3 linked regions of the Homo sapiens genome follow. The protein of the gene in region 2 interacts with the protein of the main gene of each other region in a pairwise test. Each region holds a gene or a part of one and is shown on either strand. Other genes may lie near its edges. The genes, in order: MS4A3, CLDN6 and MAPK8.

Evidence for each region.
Region 1: the proteins of CLDN6 (region 2) and MS4A3 interact in binary tests that used the Homo sapiens proteins (3 or more experiments, as listed by UniProt).
Region 3: the proteins of CLDN6 (region 2) and MAPK8 interact in binary tests that used the Homo sapiens proteins (3 or more experiments, as listed by UniProt).

Annotation. Positions count from the first base shown.
Region 1 is NC_000011.10:60,059,657-60,063,306, forward strand, and holds part of MS4A3 (membrane-spanning 4-domains subfamily A member 3), read left to right. Parts: intron 1-1,489; 5' UTR 1,490-1,504; coding exon 1,505-1,660; intron 1,661-1,866; exon of another isoform or gene 1,867-1,898; intron 1,899-2,811; coding exon 2,812-2,949; intron 2,950-3,650. UniProt on the Homo sapiens protein: Hematopoietic modulator for the G1-S cell cycle transition. Modulates the level of phosphorylation of cyclin-dependent kinase 2 (CDK2) through its direct binding to cyclin-dependent kinase inhibitor 3 (CDKN3/KAP).
Region 2 is NC_000016.10:3,015,290-3,019,622, forward strand, and holds the start of CLDN6 (claudin-6), read right to left. Parts: upstream 2,895-4,333; 5' UTR 2,860-2,894; intron 754-2,859; 5' UTR 733-753; coding exon 70-732; 3' UTR 1-69.
Region 3 is NC_000010.11:48,313,154-48,316,803, reverse strand, and holds part of MAPK8 (mitogen-activated protein kinase 8), read right to left. Parts: intron 1-3,650. UniProt on the Homo sapiens protein: Serine/threonine-protein kinase involved in various processes such as cell proliferation, differentiation, migration, transformation and programmed cell death.

The sequences.
Region 1 (3,650 bases), on a different chromosome or scaffold from region 2:
GCTTTCTAAGGATAATGGCTTCTACTTCATCCATGTTCCTGCAAAAGACATGATCTCATTCCTTTTTATGGCTGCATAGTATTCCACAGTGTGTATGTACCACATTTTCTTCATCCAGTCTACAAATGATGGACATTTAGGTTGATTCTATGTCTTTGCTATTGTGAATAGTGCTGCAATGAACATTCACGTGCATGTGTTTTATGGTAGAATGATTTATATTAAGATCTTATTCTTAACCCAATCGATAGTTATGGCAGAATACAGCATCATTTTATGTGTTTGTTTATGGTTCATCTCATGCCATCTCCCTCATCAGTTATAAAAGCATATAAGCATTTTACAACTATTTTGTGTAGGAGGGTACTATGAATTAGGAAGTTATCTTGCCCAACATTCAGAAGTCCAATGTAAGCATTCTGTGTGTACTTTAGTGATACATATTTTTCAGCTGTAATGATTGAGGTGGTTGTTTTGTGACCCTTATATATATACAAACTTGAAGTCCTTTTTGTTAGAAGGCAGAGTATAAGTTAAAAGCTGATACCACCTGTTCACAGGTTGAGAATTCCGTACATTATCAAAGTCAACTCTCGCAATGTTAATATAAAATTAAAATTATTCCCATTTTTACAGAAGTGAAAACTGAGGTTCCCACTACAAGGTCATGCAACTAGTAAGTGATGAAATCTGGATTTGAATTGGAATCTTCCATAGTGCTTAAACTCTGAAAACTGAGGTTCCCATTACTAGGTCATGCAACTAGTAAATGATGAAATCTGGATTTGAATTTGGATCTTCCATAGTGCTTAAACTCTACCATGCTATGTTGGTACTCAGAAAGACGTCTTCTATATAGTACTATATAATGTGGTGATTTGAAAAATATTGGACCTTAGAGTAGAATGTTTTTAGTAAAATCTGAAATGATTTATAAGCCATATGAGTTTGGGTAAGTTTCTCGGTCTCTCTATACCTCAATTTTTTTCATCTGTGAAACGGGAATAATAATAATATTATAACAGGATTAAGTATATTAATACATTCACAGCATCCAGACAGTGCTTGGCATATAGTAATAAGTACTAAATAAATGACACCTACTATTATTACTGGAATGTGACTAAAGCCATTATTCTTATAAAGAGACCACTGCTCAGAGAAACCATATGTCTGGTTGCCCTTGACTGACTTGAAGAAAGGCAGGGACTATATATCAGTGCATGCAAAATGAGAAAGAAATTGCTCTTTACCATTCCAAAGTTAAGTGAAGCACCAAGGCCTACTACAATGACCCGATGATGTCTACTACTCCAAGGCAAGACAGAATTGAATATTGTACAAACTCTGTTACTCTGCCCTGGTGTCCCATTTGTGGAGAGTCATTGTAATGTATGGACAGAATTGAACCCTTCTGTAACACTCAAAATTTTAGTAGCTAGTGGAAAAAGGGAAAGCATGAAGGCTTTGGATTTCTTTTCTATCACAGCCATAAACAACCCCAATGGCCTCCCACGAAGTTGATAATGCAGAGCTGGGGTCAGCCTCTGCCCATGGTACCCCAGGCAGTGAGGCGGGACCAGAAGAGCTGAATACTTCTGTCTACCAGCCCATAGATGGATCACCAGATTATCAGAAAGCAAAATTACAAGTTCTTGGGGTAAGTCAGCCTTAGTTTAAACACTGATTTAAGAGGGAAGAAAATAAATACAGTTGACCTGTGAATAACGTGCGTTTGAACTGTGAGGATTCCCTTACATGTGGATTTCTTCCACCTCTGTTTGCCATCCCGAGACAGCAAGAACAACCCCTGCTCTCCCTCTTCTTCCTCAGTCTATTCAACGTGAAGAGGATGAGGATGAAGACCTTTATGATAATCTACTTCCACTTAATGAATAGTAAATACATTTTCTCTTTCTTATGATTTCCTTAACGTTTTTAGTTTCTCTAGCTTATTGTATATAATATGTCACATACAAAATATGTGATAATCGACTGTTTATATTAATAGTAAGACTTCTGGTCAACAGTAGGCTATTAGTAGTTAAGTTTTTGGGAAGTCATAAGTTTTACGTGGATTTACCACCATGAAAGGGTGGGCATTCCAAACCCCAATGTTGTTCAAGAGCCAACTGTATCATGTAGAAAACCTTGCTTATGCTGAGAAGGAGGAAATTCTGAGTTATTTATCACTGACTTAATAATGATTGGAGAAAAGACAGGGACTTCTTATAGATCTGGGGAGCAGAAATGCAAAGGCATTTTCTCATGGTAGAAAACATCAAACCTTGGAGAACAGATTCCAAGACCCTTCATTTTTTGTTTTGTGCCTTTTGACCAGCCATTTGAGGAGGCTGAGCTCTATGAAGCTTATATTCTATATTTTAAATTTAAAAATTGGGTTGAGAGAAGGGTTAAAAATTGGGTTGAGAGAAAGGCTGAGTAGGATATGGCTTATCCTCTGTCTGCCTTCATCATATTATGATGCAAAAGCATGCTGGGAAGAGACTTTGACTCCATCTACCTTACCAATCATGTCTGTTTTACTGTCCTGCCACTTTCTGAGAGGAGTTCGTGAGAATGAACAGAAATGTGGGGGAGAGGTGAAGACAAAATGCTGCCACTGGAATTGGTGTGGATAGCGTGGAATAAAAAACTCTTTCAGATAAGCTCTCGTTCTGTTAATTTAGGCTTGACACTTTAACCATTTCAAGCACCGACATCTCCTTTCTGAGGAAAATTAAAATGGCCTGTTTTCAGTGTCCACTTTAGTATATGACTGTTACGCCTTTTTCCCCTTTCTTCTTTCAGGCCATCCAGATCCTGAATGCAGCAATGATTCTGGCTTTGGGTGTCTTTCTGGGTTCCTTGCAATACCCATACCACTTCCAAAAGCACTTCTTTTTCTTCACCTTCTACACAGGCTACCCGATTTGGGGTGCTGTGTTTGTGAGTATTCGTACTCCCCTGGCTATATGTTATTTCTTAGATACCACTGCTGGAGATGTGTTTGATGACAAAAATATTGTTTGTAGGTTATTGGAAGGTTGCATGCTGTGGTTTTGATTTGCAATTCTTGATATAAACAATTAGAGACGATAAACTCTTTTTTATTTTTTAATTTAATTAATTACTTAATTAATTTATTTTTTGAGACAAAGTCTCGATCTGCCATCCAGGCTGGAGTGCAGTGGCATGATCTCTGCCCACTGAAACCCTCTGCCTCCCCAGTTCAAGTGATTCTCTTGCCTCAGTCTCCTGAGTGGCTGGGATTACAGGCATGCACCACCATGCCCACCTAATTTTTGTTTTTGTATTTTTAGTAGAGACAGGGATTCACCATGTTTTCCAGGATGGTCTCGAACTCCTGACCACAAGTGGTCCTCCCAGCTTGGCCTCCCAAAATGCTGGAATTGCCAGGCATGAGCCCTGATGCCAGGCCAAAAATCTCTTTCTGATTAAGAGAAACCACATTTGCCAAGTACAAATGAAGTCCTAAAAATTATCTTATATATAACTATATGTTACATTTATAGATACTTAAAAAATTGAATGAAAAATGGGTATTGATGAATTGCCTTGTGGTACAGCAGAGAGTCCTGGCTTGAGAGTTAAGAAATTTGTCTGCTGATTACTGTCTGAAAGTCAGA
Region 2 (4,333 bases):
CCCAAAGCTGTTGGGCACTGCCACTTCTGGATGGCTCTAGCGCCAGCGGAGCCCCCATTCCCCTCCACGTCAGACGTAATTCTTGGTAGGGTACTCAGAGGGCCCCCGAGAGATGGCAGGGGCAGATGTTGAGTAGCGGGCCATGTAATGGCTGGGGCCCTGGGACCCCCCCGAGGGGCAAGTGCAGCACAGCAACCCCCCACCCAGCAACAAAAGGCCTGAGGCCGCCCAGCCCAAGTAGAGGGAGGCCCCCAGCTCCCGCTTTTGGGCCTCAGCCACCAGGGGGTTATAGAAGTCCCGGATGATGGCATGCGCCGTCCAGCACACGGGGATTAGCGTCAGGACCCCTGAGATGACAAAGACAATCCCAGAGGTGAGCACCAGGCGGGCCTTGGAATCCTTCTCCTCCACACAGGTGGTACACTTGGCCCCAGCAAGGTAGACCAGCAAGCCGAACAGGGCCACAAGGAGGGCGATGACACAGAGGGCACGTGCAGCCTGCAGGTCCTGTGGCAGCGCCAGCAGTGAGTCGTACACCTTGCACTGCATCTGGCCGGTGCTCTGCACCACGCAGGACATCCACAGGCCCTCCCACACCACCTGGGCCACCACGATGCTGTTGCCGATGAAAGCGGTCACCTTCCACATGGGCAGGGCACAGGAGACCAGGCCATTCACCCAGCCCAGCAGTGTCAGGACGACTCCCAGGATCTGCATTCCGGCAGAGGCCATGGCGAGGTTGAAGGAGCTGCACTGTGTTTGGGACAGAAGCACAACAAGGTGAGGCCTGGCAGGCCCAGACCTCAGGCCACATGTGGACAGGACTCTAGGGGCATGCACCCTGGAAAGTGGTCATCACATCCTGGAACTCAGTCAAGACATGCTCCCTGAGCCTCACTTCTCGTGGGCAAAATGGACACTTAATGCTTTAGCATTTATTATTCTTTCTAGTTATGTGACAGGCACTGGCTGATGACAGTGACTGTGCAAGCAGCCCTGCCCTGGCTATCCTGAATGCAAATGAAAGATAACAGGATGAAACCTATACAATGACAGTCCAAGGCCAGAGCCAGTGATCAGGCTGCAAGGCGGCAAAAAGCAGGATGACAGGACGGTGCGATTTCCAAGCAGTTTCCGTGTAGAATGGTTCAATTCTAGCCCTGAGTTTAAGGCTCAAAACTTGTCCATTTGTTTTGTTTGTTTGTTTGAGACGAGGAGTCTCGCTCTGTGGCCCAGGCTAGAGTGCAGTGGTGCCATCTCCACTCACTGCAACCTCTGCCTCCCAGGTTCAAGCGATTCTCCTGCCTCAGCCTCCCAAGTAGCTGGGATTACAGGTGCACACCACCACGCCCGGCTAATTTTTTTTTTTTTTTTTTAAGACGGAGTCTCGCTCTGTCGCCCAGCCTGGAGTGCAGTGGCGGGATCTCGGCTCACTGCAAGTTCTGCCTCCCCGGTTCACGCCATTCTCCTGCCTCAGCCTCCCGAGTAGCTGGGACTACAGGCGCTCACCACCACGCCCGGCTAATTTTTTTGTATTTTTAGTAGAGACGGGGTTTCACTGTGTTAGCCAGGATGGTCTCGATCTCCTGACTTCGTGATCCTCCCGCCTCAGCCTCCCAGAGTGCTGGGATTACAGGCATGAGCCACCACACCTGGTCTTAATTTTTGTATTTTTAGTAGAAACAGGGTTTCATCAAGTTGGCCAGGCGGGTCTCGAACTCCTGACCTCAGGTGATCTGCCCGCCTCAAGCCTCCCAAAGTGCTGGGATTACAGGTGTGAGCCACCGTGCCCAACCAAAACTTGTTAATTTCAACACTAAGATTGGAGATCCTAAGCTTCCTCCCACCACCCAATGTCCCTCACAACTTGGTTCCACACCCCAGGCTGGCAGACACCAGGACCAGGAGAGATGAAGAAAAGCATCATTAATCCCCCATCTAAAAGCAGTTCCTCCCCCAAAGCCAGTGGATAACTCCCTGGCCCCACCCTTCTGACCTGCCCTAGGCGCCGGAGAGCATAGCCTCAAGGCTGAGGGCCTTTTCCTATGAATTCTAGACGAAAATGCCGTGCTAGACTCCCCTCAACACCAGTTCTCCCACCGCCACCTGGCCTGCACCTGTGTCCCCTCAGTGTTGGAGGTCGTGGAGGGAATCACTTCTGACTAGGGCCGGGCTGTGGCCTCCCACTGCCCAGAGTACTTTCATTGTACGGCTTGGACCTAAACTTTTCCCGGCCGGCAGCGGTCGGAGGGCAGGCTCTACTCATTAGCCGGGGGCCCCAGGCCTGGGCGGAGCAGACCACCTTGGGGAGACTGGCTGGGGCACGGTGCCCCAGCGCTCAGGTCCGGCCCTTAGGCCTCTGGCCGAGTTAGGGTCGGGGCCGCGCTGGTATAGGCGCCCAGGCCTCTCCCCTCTGAGTGTGCCCCTGCCCCTTTCTTTTTCATGCACTGCATGAAAAAGACTCTGTCCGAGGGCGCCCCGGCCCACCCGACCACCCCAGCCTGGGAGCCGCGCGCCCTGGAGGGGTTCTATAGCTGCAGTGGCCGCAAGGTCCGCTCCCCCAGGTGAGGGGGAGGGGGGAGGGGCGCCCCGCCCCGAGAGGCAAGGCAGGTGGGGGAGGGGCGCCAGGGGTTTCGGAGTCTTTGTCCCTGGGGAGGGGGGAGGGGCGTTTAACCCTTGGGAGCCCCGAAGGACCCTATCACCTCGGAGGCTTGGGCGCGGACCGGCCGACCCCCTCAGGGACTCGCCCATCCAGGTGGCCGCAGCCCGAGTTCGCACGCACCCCTACCCACGCCGCCACCACCCTGCACCCGGCCCCAAGAGGCGTCTCTCCAACACGCACACTAGCCCCGGACTCACCTGCGAAGGAGATAAGGGAAATTCCTAGGCCGAGTGTCGGGACAGGGGCGGAGGCGGGGGTCTTAAAGAAGCGGTGACGTCACTGGACCACCGCCCCGGAGGAGGGGCAGAGACCCTGTCCCTGACGGCAGCGGGCGTGCGAATCCCAGGCTTGTCAGAGGGGGGCGCTGGAGGCTGGGGTCGCTGGGCCCGCCTCGGGCTGGCAGACGTCCAGACTCACCCAGGGTGAGGGCGCCAGGCTTAGGGTAGAACAGAGCTTGAGACTCCGCTTCACCACTTAAGCAGCGCGGTGACATGGGGAACTCACCTAACCTTCCCGAGCCTTCGTTTCCTACTCTGCAAAATGGAGATAACAAGTCTGCATTTTATTATGTAACTACGTCCTAAGGTACAAATTAAAGGGCATACTATTGGTATTATTTTAGAGAAATATTTTCACTGTGTCACCCAGGCTGGAGTGCAGTGGTGCGATCACGGCTCACTGCAGTCTCGACCTTCTGGGCTCAAGCGATCCTCCCGCCTCAGCCTCCTGAGTAGCTGGGACTACAGGCAGCACACGCCACCGTGCCCAGCTAATTTATGTTTTGTTTTGTATAGACAGGGTCTTGTTATATTGCCCAGGCGTCTCGAACTCCCGGACTCAAGCGATCCGCCCGCCTTGGCCTCGCACTGCGCTGGGATTACCGGCTTAAGCCACCGCGCCCGGCCAGATAATATTATTTTTATGTTGCTGGTTTTTTGTTGTTGTTGTTGTTTGTTTTTGAGATGGAGTCTCGCTCTCTCGCCAAGGCTGGAGTGTGGTGGCGCGATCTTGGCTCACTGCAAGCTCTGCCTTCCGGGTTCACGCCATTCACCTGCCTCAGCCTCCAGAGTAGCTGGGACTACTACAGGTGCCCGCCACCACCCCCGACTAATTTTTTTGTATTTTTAGTAGAGACGGGGTTTCACCGTGTTAGCCAGGATGGCCTCGATTTCCTGACCTCGTGATCTGCCCGCCTCGGCCTCCCAATGTGCTGGGATTACAGGCGTGAGCCACCGCGCCCGGCCTGTTTTGTTTTTTGAGATGGAGGCCCTCTCTGTCGCCCAGTCTGGAGTGCAATGGCGCTATCTCGACTGACTGCAACCTCCGTCTCCCAGGTTCCAGAAATTCTCCTGCCTCAGTCTCCCGAGTAGCTGAGATTACAGGCGCCCACTACCACGCCCGGCTAACTTCTTTCTTTTTTTTATTTTTAGTAAAGACGGGGGTTCACCAAGTTGGCCAGGCTGGTCTCGAGCTCCTGACCTCAGGTTTAATTGTTATACCCCCCGGGCCCTTAACAAAGCTGTAGTGGCCAGGCTAACCTGGGCAACATAGTAAGACCCTGGTCTCTACAAAAAATACAAAAATTAGCCGGACGTGGTGGGGCAGGGCCTGTGGTCCCAGCTACTTGGGAGGCTGAGGTGGGAGGCTCACCTGAGCCCAGAGAGCCGTGAT
Region 3 (3,650 bases), on a different chromosome or scaffold from region 2:
ACAGAAAATAAACTATTTAATCCCCATTAAGCAATGAGATCTCTACTGAAGTTCAGCTAAGTACCTAACTACCATATAATTTTATAAGGATGAGCAACCTGCCCCAATCCAGTTGCCAAATCAAACTCACTCTTTGCACCCTCTCACTCCTGTGCTTTCCTGACTTGATTTTTGCATTTTTCCAAGCTTAAGACCCTCCTGTCTACATTCATTCACTTCATACTTCTCATATCTTGACCTCTACTTTGACTGCATGCTCTCTGACACCAGACTAAATTATATTTCCGGGAGCTGCCTCTGGGTGCTAAGCACATAGAAAGCAGCCTATACACATAGTCACACCTTGCTTAAGGACGGGGATACCTTCTGAGAAATGCATCATTAGGCAATTTCGTCACTGTGCAAACATCATGGAATCTACTTACACCAACCTAGATAGTACAACATACCTAAGCTATAATATGGTGTAGCCTACTGACCCTAGGCTACGAACCTGTACAGCAGGTTACTGTACTGAATACTGCAGGCAACTGTAACACAATGGGAAGTATTTGTGTATCTAAACATAGAAAAAATAGAGTAAAAATATGGTATAATTTTATGGGACCACTGTCACATATGTGGTCTGTAATGGACCGAAACCTCACCATGTGGTGCATGACTGTATCATCAAATAAGACACAAGGCAGTTAACTGCTAATCCTACATTCACTATCAAGTGATCCCCAACTTGTCCATTTAACATTTTGAAAACCACAATTCATTTCAAGTTACATTAACTTTAGAGAGAAAACTTCACACTACTTTAAGTATTCCCATAATCCCTCCCTAATTTCATTATTATTCATAACATTTAAATACTCAACAGATAAACAGATATTTTGGCTCATTTTACATATAATGGAGGAAAACTATAATCTTCTAAAATCACCACTATAAATGCAATAAGAAAAAATATAAGAGTATAAAAAGTTGGGGGAGGGAGGAGGTAAAAATCAAAGGAAACAAAAAAGCTGGCATGACATAAGAAAAATAAAAAATTCAACTACAAAACTATTAGAAATAATAAATATTCTACAGGGGGCTTATTATTTAATATATGAAATATTAACTAATATACAAAATAAAAAGCTTTCTTATATATAACCAGATAGAAGATAAAAGTGGAAAAAAAGATGCCATTTCCAGCAAAAAAAAAAAAACTTAAATATATAAAACAGCAAAAAAAAATTTTAATGTTTAAAAATGCTATCAGGAACTCAAAATGAGACTTCAACAAATGAAAAGGTTGTTTTTCCTATTCTTGGATATAAAGGTACATCATAAAGCTGTCACTTATTCTATAAATACAAAGAAATCCTAACAGTACACTGAATCCATTTAATAGAAGCCAATCACTGGGGAGCAAGGTAACTTGAAAAGGATGTAAGAAAAGGTTCTGGGTGATGGAAGTGTTCTGTATTTTGATCTGGGATTGCACAAGTGTATACAAAGGCAAACTTATTGGACTGTAATGCTTGTGCATCTAGCTGTGCATAATTTTACCACAATAAAATAAAAAAAGTGATTCCAACAGAAAGACTGGCAGAGGAGGGGTACAGACTAGACTAGATGGGTTGTTTTTAGAAGTTCATATAAAATAAACAAGATAGAAGCCAGAAAAAAACTTCTGAAAAGGAAGAGAAATAAAAGGGAATTAGACCTAGCAGAAAACACAGCATAAACTACAATAATAAAAACAGGATGGCTCAGGTCCCAAACAGGCAGATGGGTCAATGGAAACAATGGTACCAAATACACGTGGAAATTTTGTAAATGGTAAAGGTGGCATTTTAAATCAGTTAAGACAAAGATGGATTATTTAATAAATGGTGTAGGGACAAATGGATGGATATCTGGTGAAGAAAATAAAGTTGGAACCATACATAATAGCCTACCATAGAATGGAAAACAGCAAATTGGGGAAAAACATTTCCAAAAAATAGCATGGAGCCAATTTGTAAAATTAATCCTACAAATCTAGGAAAATGAGCAACAAAGCAATAGAAAAACATGCAAAGACAAGGACAGTTCAAAAGAAAGAAAACACAAACAGCCCTTAAAAGATGAAAGACGTCTAAGGGTAATAAGAAGCAGGCATCCTTACACAGTGCTGGTGGAATGGAAGTTGGACAACCTCTACAGGCTACACTTCAGCAATACATAAAATTACAAATGCACATACGCTGGCCTAGGAACTCTACCTCTGGAAATTTATCCTATGCATTTAAGTGCAACACGACGTATGCACAAGGTAATCCACTGCACCATGGCTTTTGATAGCAAAAGTCTGAAAACTACCTAAATATGCATCAGAAAGGAGTTAAATGGTATACCAGTATAATGATGTTATGGACTGTCTGTGTCCCTCCAAATTCATATGTTGAAGGCCTACCCTCTAACTTGATAGTATCTGGAGGAGAGACCTTTAGGAGTTAACTAAGCCTCTCATGACTATATTAGGTCATGAGGGTGGAGCCCCCATGATAGGATGAGGAACAGACTAGAGCTCTTAGGGGCCATGTGAGGATACATCCAGAAGCCGGCCACCTATAAAGCCAGGAAAAGGACCCTCACCAGGGAACCAAATTGACTAAGTAGCCTAATCTTGAACTTCCCGACCTCCAGAACTGTGAGAAATAAATTTCTGTTGTTTAAACCACTCAAGTTATGGTATTTTGATATAGCAGCCCAAACAGAGTAAGACAAATGGAATACCACAAAGATGTTAAAAAAGCATGCCATTTACATACTGATATGACTGATATAAAATAATCTCTCAGCTATATTAAAACAAAAAGCAGGCCACGTGCGGTGGCTCACACCCGTAATCCCAGCACTTTGGAGGCCAAGGCAGGTGGATCACCTGTAATCCCAGCTACTCAGGAGGCTGAGGCAGGAGAATCACCTGAACCTCGGAGGCAGAGGTGGCAGTGAGCTGAGATTGTGCCACTGCACTCCAGCCTGGGCAACAAGAGTGAGACTCCGTCTCAAAAAACAAACCAACAAGCAAAAAACAAAAAAGCAAAAGGTGATACATATTGCATGCAACAACTTACATTAAATAAAAAGGGAGGGAGCAGAGCAGAGGCTATACAGTACTGTATATATGTATGACACCTATCCTTCATTGGCAAAGCCAAAATCCATAAAGCTGTGAAAAATACGTTTTTAAAATAAGTTTAGTACAAACGTATTTGGTGGTAAAACCTGACGAGACGTAGCATAAGATTTTATAATCTTTATTCACCCTACTTGTATTTGTTATGCTTTTATAAAAATATTAATGTCTTTGATTATTTCTGGGTGTTGTTGTTGTTGTTGTTTTTTGAGACAGAGTCTACACCTCTGCCGCCCAGGCTGGAGTGTAGTGGCACGATCTCAGCTCACTGCAACCTCCGCCTCCTAGATTCAAGAGATTCTCCTGCCTCAACCTCCCAAGTAGCTGGGATTACAGGCGTACGCTACCACGCCCAGCTAATTTTTGTATTTTTAGTATAGACGGGGTATCACTATGTTGGCCAAGCTGGTCTCAAACTCCTGACCTCAGGTGATCCGCCCGCCTCGGCCTCCCAAAGTGCTCAGATTACAGGCGTGAGCCACCGCGCCTG